2 linked regions of the Homo sapiens genome follow. The protein of the gene in region 2 purifies or fractionates together with the protein of the main gene of each other region. This does not show direct contact. Each region holds a gene or a part of one and is shown on either strand. Other genes may lie near its edges.

Evidence for each region. Proteins that work in one complex are often made in the same cells at the same time.
Region 1: the proteins of PLPBP (region 2) and ARFIP1 fractionate together in Homo sapiens (co-fractionation; 2 studies listed by BioGRID). This does not show direct contact.

Annotation. Positions count from the first base shown.
Region 1 is NC_000004.12:152,866,875-152,870,627, reverse strand, and holds part of ARFIP1 (arfaptin-1), read right to left. Parts: intron 1-3,753. UniProt on the Homo sapiens protein: Plays a role in controlling biogenesis of secretory granules at the trans-Golgi network. Mechanistically, binds ARF-GTP at the neck of a growing secretory granule precursor and forms a protective scaffold.
Region 2 is NC_000008.11:37,772,580-37,776,332, reverse strand, and holds part of PLPBP (pyridoxal phosphate homeostasis protein), read right to left. Parts: intron 3,579-3,753; coding exon 3,444-3,578; intron 1,025-3,443; coding exon of another isoform or gene 995-1,024; coding exon 852-994; intron 416-851; coding exon 317-415; intron 1-316. UniProt on the Homo sapiens protein: Pyridoxal 5'-phosphate (PLP)-binding protein, which may be involved in intracellular homeostatic regulation of pyridoxal 5'-phosphate (PLP), the active form of vitamin B6.

The sequences.
Region 1 (3,753 bases), on a different chromosome or scaffold from region 2:
TATATTTGTTTTCTTTCAGGGAAGGACTAATAATAAATGTATGCTACCAGGCTCAGTTTTTATATAAACTTTTCATCAAACTATCAAAACTAAACAGAATATGTAACTATATAATGAAATCTGGTAGATGACATCTAACCAGGATTTTAACTGGACTCTACTATTTCCAAAATCAGTTAACAGAATGTGAATACAGTCCCATAGCTGGATGATTTAAAGCTTCAGTAAATATTTCATAACTTGCTACTCTCATATATAAAGGAAAAGCTCTTCAAGTAAAAATTCAAAGGCATGTAAGGGATATTAAAACATGCTCTCATATCTCTTATAAGAAATGTGAATGAACTACAGCCTTCACAGGAATTGTAGCCAAAAATTTCAAATCACAAATCAAATGTCACATAGTGTGTCTCATTGCTATTCATAATGTGGACATAGAGGACCTTCTTCAATTCACCTGGACGCTTGTTAGAAATGCAAAATCTCAGACCCTGCCCAGACCTACTGAACCCAAACCTACATTTTCATAAGATTTCCCCAGGTGATTTGTATGTACTTTGAAATTTGAGAAGTGCTGATGTAGAATATTTTTTGACATTATAAGAATCACTTTTGGAGCTTTTAAAACATACCTGCGATACTCAAAAAGATCTACTGATTATCAGTGAAACAGGCATCTATTCTTTTGCAAAAGCCACTCAAGATGATTCTCAAACACAACCAAGTTTGAGAACCAGAGGAAACAACACAATTTTTGAATGAAACACAACTAAGTTTTAAATTCTAACACTGAGTTTAAAATTCTGGCTCTATCTACCACATGATATCAGGAACACCCTGGCAAATTACTAAACATCTCTGAGCCTTAATTAGCTACAAAGTAAGAAACATTAACTACTGGCTGAGAGCGGCGGCTCATGCTTATAATCCCAGCACTTTGGGAGGCAGAGGCAGATGGATTGCTTGAGCTCAGGAGTTCAAGACCAGCCTGGGCAACATGGCAAAACACCATCTTGCTGGGCATGGTGGCACAAGCCTGTAGTCCCAGCTACTCAGAGGTTGAGGTAGACGGACTGCTTGAGCCCAGGAGGAGGAGGCCGCAGTCAGCCAAGATCGCACCACTGCACTCCAACCTGAGTGACAAAGCCAGACTCTGTCTCAATTAAAAAAAAAAAGAAAGAAAGAAAGAAACACTGACTACCCAACATTGTTGCTAATGTCTAGCATTAAACAAAAAAAGGGAGTAATAGGTTTCTAAAACTGAAAAAATATTAAAGTCCTTCCATGTTTAGCTGAGAATATTTTAATGTCTATAATGTACTTTTATTTCAATTACACTCTTCCCCAGTTCTCTGGAAAAAATACATGCATTAAGTACATAATTAAATTTCCTAATAAGAAAGACATGTCTACTTTCTTTACTATTAGTAATAACTGGTCATATTCCAGATGTACTAAATTCTGACATAGAAACTGTCACGAGTTCTAACAGTATAAAATATACCTTAACTTGAACTGGATCTCACATTAAAATTCAAACATGCAATAGACCTAAACTAAATAGATTGTTGTTAACTTTCAAAATGAGAGATATTTTTCTCTTTAAATCTGTTAAATTATAAAATTTAAAACCAGAAGGGATGATGGAAATCAACTAAACTGTCACATTAAACGGTAAGATTAATGAAGCCCAGAGAAGTTAAAATAGTTTCTTATTAGAGACTCAGATGTTCTGAACACCATAATATCTCCATTATTAAATTCAATATAGAAATCACTAATCTACAAGTTACTTGCTGAGTTGGAAGGCATTTTAATAGGTTATCCAGTTCAATCACCATTTTAAACAAAGACTGTATCTCTACCGTCCAAGGCATAAGGGATTCTAAAATAAAGTGTAAAATAAAAGAAGACCACTGTACTTCCATGTCTTGACCCCAGGAATAGGAGCTCTATTGTTCTAGTTATTACAGTTTCTTAATCTTGCATAAGAAATAAACCATAGCACTACATGGGATGTGTATAATATATATAACAAATGATATGTAAATTTTCAAAGTAAAATAGCAAATGATGTAGTGTGGCTGTAACTGGGACTTCAGCTTTTTTGATTTACCTTCAAAGGTAATTATCACTTTTCTGTATCTTTAATACTTTAACCCTTTAAACAACTGTTACCAAAATCATTCACCAATACCAACTAAAAAATAAATAATAATACAGGATCTCTCAATAATACAGGATCTTACTAACTGGCTAAATTTGGGGAATTAAATCTATTTCATCTCAACAACAAAAATCTAGAAAGATGAATACATATGTGCAAAGATTTATACCCCCATTAAAACAAAACCCTGGTACCAAGTACACTTCACTCTTGTGAGCTTTGATTTATTCATGATTTCCACTATTACTGATTCTGCAACATCTTTGGTGCTAGGCCGATTTCAATATTTGTTGTTTTTAAGCTGAATTTAAGTATAACTTTTTAATTTGCTCTAGATAGATGAAAAAGTAGATGGTTATACTCTTCTTGTTAACTGTTTAAGCAATAGTCATAATTTATCATTTAGTCATCTTTCCAGAGAGCTAACACAGCCCTAATTCCTTTAACATTTTTTCATAAGACCTATTTTCCAGATTGTAACCATTGTATGTTATTCTTTCTCATGTTCATTCCAATTTATCTACATATATCTTAAAACAATCACAACTTTCCAACAAATGCTTAACTAATTTAAGTATAGCAGCAGAATGATTATTTTCCTAATACACTGATCAACAATACAGTTTGGATTTTAAAATGTTTTACAAACTCAGTTCAGAGAGACATATATTACTGCCATTATCACGAAATATATTTTCTTATTCCAATTGGAAGGATTAGGATGTATCTATAAGCAAGTGAAACTGATGGGCATTTTAATGCTCATGTATATCAGTTCATGATGGCCAACTGATTTCAATTATTGTATAATACCATTATACAATAACTTTAAGGGGAAAAATGCCAGCTAAATAATTTCATTAAAAATATTTAAAAGATTGCTTTTACAAGTAATTGTTTCGAGACCCTCTCCCCTCTCCCCTCTCCCGTCTCACCTCTCTCCCTCTCCCCACGGTCTCCCTCTCCCTCTCTTTCCACGGTCTCCCTCTGATGCCGAGCAGAAGCTGGACTATACTGCTGCCATCTCGGCTCACTGCAACCTCCCTGCCTGATTCTCCTGCCTCAGCCTGCTGAGTGCCTGCGATTGCAGGCACGCACCGCCATGCCTGACTGGTTTTTGTGTTTTTTTGGTGGAGACGGGGTTTCGCTGTGTTGGCCGGGCTGGTCACCAGCTCCTAACCGCGAGTGATCCGCCAGCCTCAGCCTCCCGAGGTGCCGGGATTGCAGACGGAGTCTCGTTCGCTCAGTGCTCAATAGTGCCCAGGCTGGAGTGCAGTGGCGTGATCTCGGCTCGCTACAACCTCCACCTCCCAGCTGCCTGCCTTGGCCTCCCAAAGTGCCGAGATTGCAGCCTCTGCCCGGCCGCCACCCCGTCTGGGAAGTGAGGAGCGTCTCTGCCTGGCTGCCCATCGTCTGGGATGTGAGGAGCCCCTCTGCCTGGCTGCCCAGTCTGGAAAGTGAGGAGCGTCTCTGCCCGGCCGCCATCCCATCTAGGAAGTGAGGAGCGCCTCTTCCCGGCCGCCATCCATCTAGGAAGTGAGGAGCGTCTCTGCCCGGCCGCCCATCATCTGAGATGTGGGGAGTGC
Region 2 (3,753 bases):
AGCTAATTTTTGTATTTTTAGGAGAGACGGGGTTTCACCATGTTGGTCAGGCTGGTCTCGAACTCCTGACCTCGTGATCTGCCCGGCTCGGCCTCCCAAAGTGCTGGGATTACAGGCGTGCGCCACCGCACCTGGCTCTTTTCAAAAAAGAAAGGGCATGGGGAATGGGAGATGCTGGAATAGCTGACACTGGGTACCTTACTGCCATCCCAAGGCATTTCCAAGGCTTCTACAGCAAAGATCTGCTCTTGTGTCAGCCTCTCAGACCCCCTACCCCCACCCCTCGAGGCAGACAGGGCACTGGCAGGACACTCACCGCATGCTGGAAATCCGCGGACATGCCCATGCTCAGCTCAACCTGGTCAGCAGGGATGTTCAGCTTTTTACACAGCTCCTCCCGGAGGGACAATAACAGCTGACAGAAAGAGATGACACCTATTTTACTCCTGCCTTCTCTAACGATGCCCAAAAGTGTCTGAATCTGAACTTCTCTGACAACGGTTATGTATTCCTTATGATTTCAAGGCCTGCCAAAATTGCCAGACGTTACTGAAAGGGTTTTTTGCAAACTATCCCACTTTCGAGAAAACTATTAGTCACTGGAGAGGAAGAAATCTCATATTCTCTAAAGACTATGTTTTAGCCAAGTTCAAGTTGAGTTGAAAAAGGTTTGTGGGGCTTTGGAAACCTGTTCTTCCCTTTTCCTTCTGAGAAGAGTTCAAAAGAGGGCTAGAACACTCAACAGGCAGTGTCTGGGATGACTCTGCAATCCCCACTGCAGCCAGCCCTGCAATAGCACTCCAGCACCCTGCTTCTTTAGCACACGAGCAATCTCCCCGACCCCCCAGTACCTGGAAGTCTGGATTTGGTCCTTGACTAAGATCATGCCCAAAGCTTCCTATGGTCATCAGCCCCACAAACTCCAGGTTAGGACACTTGGCGTTTATGTGCTCCACGATGGCTATGGTCTCTGAAGGTGGAAGGCCATGTTTACCTTCAAGAAAAGAAACAGAAAACAGGTATACTGCAAGGGTAAATGGCCAGAGGAAGGCTCCATTTTCCTCCCTTCCTTACGACAGAAGAGGTGACCCCCAACAAGAGAACCTCTTGAAAGAGCCTCAAGTCCTAAAGAGTAACTTTATACTTGGGGTTTTCTATGTTGCTCTGCTTCTGGTCAGGTTCTAAATTTCTCAAGAAAAGAACTATCAGTTGGATTCTCTTTCCTCCATCTCAGGATTTCAGCTGAAAACAGCTAGGAGACATGGAAAAGAAAAAATCTTGCTTTTTTGGGATACCAGGAAGATTTGCATTGCCAAAATGCCAGATGAACCTGAGAATTACTTTTCTAAATCAAGAATTTTTATAGTTTTATTAATTTAATGGAGTTGCAAAAAATTTAGTATAAAGTACATGTTAAATATTTTTGGCTATATATTAGCAAAGTTTAACTGAACTTTCTAATTAACAACTGGAAGAGAAATCTGCAGCAAGCAATTATTTGTTATACAGTTATAAGAGCTATTGATATTGTCTTGCCCCCATTTATTAGGCGGAGATACTAGTAACATTTACTTCAGTCTTTAAATAGGGCATATTATAGCTAATTATCAAGAAATGATACAATAAAGACTTGACCTATAGTTGATTTCAGATTTCTATTGATAATTGGGATTTAAACCCAGGTAGTCTGACTCTAGGACGTTATCTAGAAAACAGATGCCTCTACTGTGTTCCTGCATACTAAGATTTGGTGAATACTGGTGCTTTGATGGTTGCAATCAAATGCCTGATCTGTATACATTTATTCTTAACGAATAGCTAACAACATGTGTAGGGTTCTGTGCTAACAATGTTGCCTGGATTATCATATTCAGTCCTAACCACACCCTCTGAAGTAAGCATTCTCATGATACCATTGCCAAAAAAGGAAACTGAAGTACAGAGAGATTAGGTAACTTATCCAAGGTTACAATACTGGAAAGTAGTGTAGCTGAAACCCAAGGTCTGTCTGATTTCAAAGCCCATGCTTCTATTCACACTATGTTACACTGTTAATCCAAGCCCCATAAAGATATTCATTGACTGGTGCTCACCATAATTTTTTATTTATTTATTTTTTTTTGAGATGGAGTCTAACTCTGTCGCCCAGGCTGGAGTGCAGTGGCGCGATCTCGGATCACTGCAATATTCACCTCCTGGGTTCGAGGGATCCTCCTGCCTCAGCATCCCGAGCAGCTGGGGCTATGGGTGCACACCATCATGCCTGGCTAATTTTTGTATGTATGGTAGAGATGAAGTTTCATCATGTTGGCTAGGCTGGTATCGAATTTCTGACCTCAGGTGATCCACCTGCCTCAGCCTTCCCAAGTGCTGGGATTACAGGTGTAAGCCACCGCACCTGGCCCACTCACAGTAATTATCTTCCATTCTCTCCCAATGCAACATCAAGTAATTTTTTTAAGATCTAAGAGTATTTATATAATCTTAGGTCTTAAAAATTTAAAATACTCCTTGTAGGAGTGATGGTGACCTTTGGGGGTTTCCAGATGAAAGACACAATCCCAGGCCGGGTGCAGTGGCTCATGTCTTTAATCTCAGCACTTTGGGAGGCTGAGGTGGGTGGATCACCTGAGGTCAAGAGTTCAAGACCAGCCTGACCAATATGGCGAAACTCCGTCTCTACTAAAAATACAAATATTAGCTGGGCGTGGTAGCGCGTGCCTGTAATCCCAGCTACTCGGGAGGCTGAGGCAGGAGAATCGCTTCAACCCAGGAGGCGGAGGTTGCAGTGAGCTGAGATCGTGCCACTGCACTCCAGCCTGGCGACAGAGTGAGGCTCTGTCTCAAAAAAAAAAAAAAAAAAGGCTGAGTGTGGTGGCTCACGCCTGTAATCCCAGCACTTTGGGAGGCCGAGATGGGTGGATCACTTGAGAGGTCATGAGCTCGAGAGCAGTCTGGCCAATATGGTGAAACCCCATCGCTATTACAAATACAAAAATTAGCCAGGCGTGGTGGTGCACGCCTGTAGTCCCAGCTACTTGGGAGGCTGAGGTGGGAGAATTGCTTCAACCCGGGAGGCGGAGGTTGCAGTGAGCCGAGATCGCACCATTGCACTCCAGCCTGGGCGACATAGCAAGACTCCATCTCAAAAAAAAAACAAAAATACAAAACGAAGTCACAATCCCCTTCTTGAACTCCCCATCCATTCTTCTTCCCCTAAAATTAAGATATAATGAACCATGATGTAGTAAAGAATGATACATAGACTGCTTTGCATGCCATTATGCTACCTAGATCACACATAAAACAGCCAACTTAGAGGCCTGTGATCCTGTGATTTGTTTCTATAACCTTATCCATCAGACACTTGGGCCCACCCATTCTCCCTAAGCTTCAACCATCCTAAAGGAAGAAAAATCTACAATTCAGGTCTGGTTACTTACTCTCTTCTCCGCTGGTGTTAATCTGGACCATAACCTTTAACCTTTCAGGAGAACCTTTTCTCTGCCAGGAACTGTTCACTTTGTCTGCCAACTTCACAGAATCCACTGTTTCCAGCATGAAGAGATTGGGGACAGCTGTAATGAGACAGAGGCAAAGTAGTATTCCTTATTTGCTCTATTGCAGCAAGTAACATGCAACAAATCTCTGACTTGTTAGAGGAAAAAATATGCCAGGAAAAGAAAAACACAGTTAAATCTCAGTTCCTCTGAGAAGACAAATGTGACAGTTTTACTAGATACAAATTCAAAT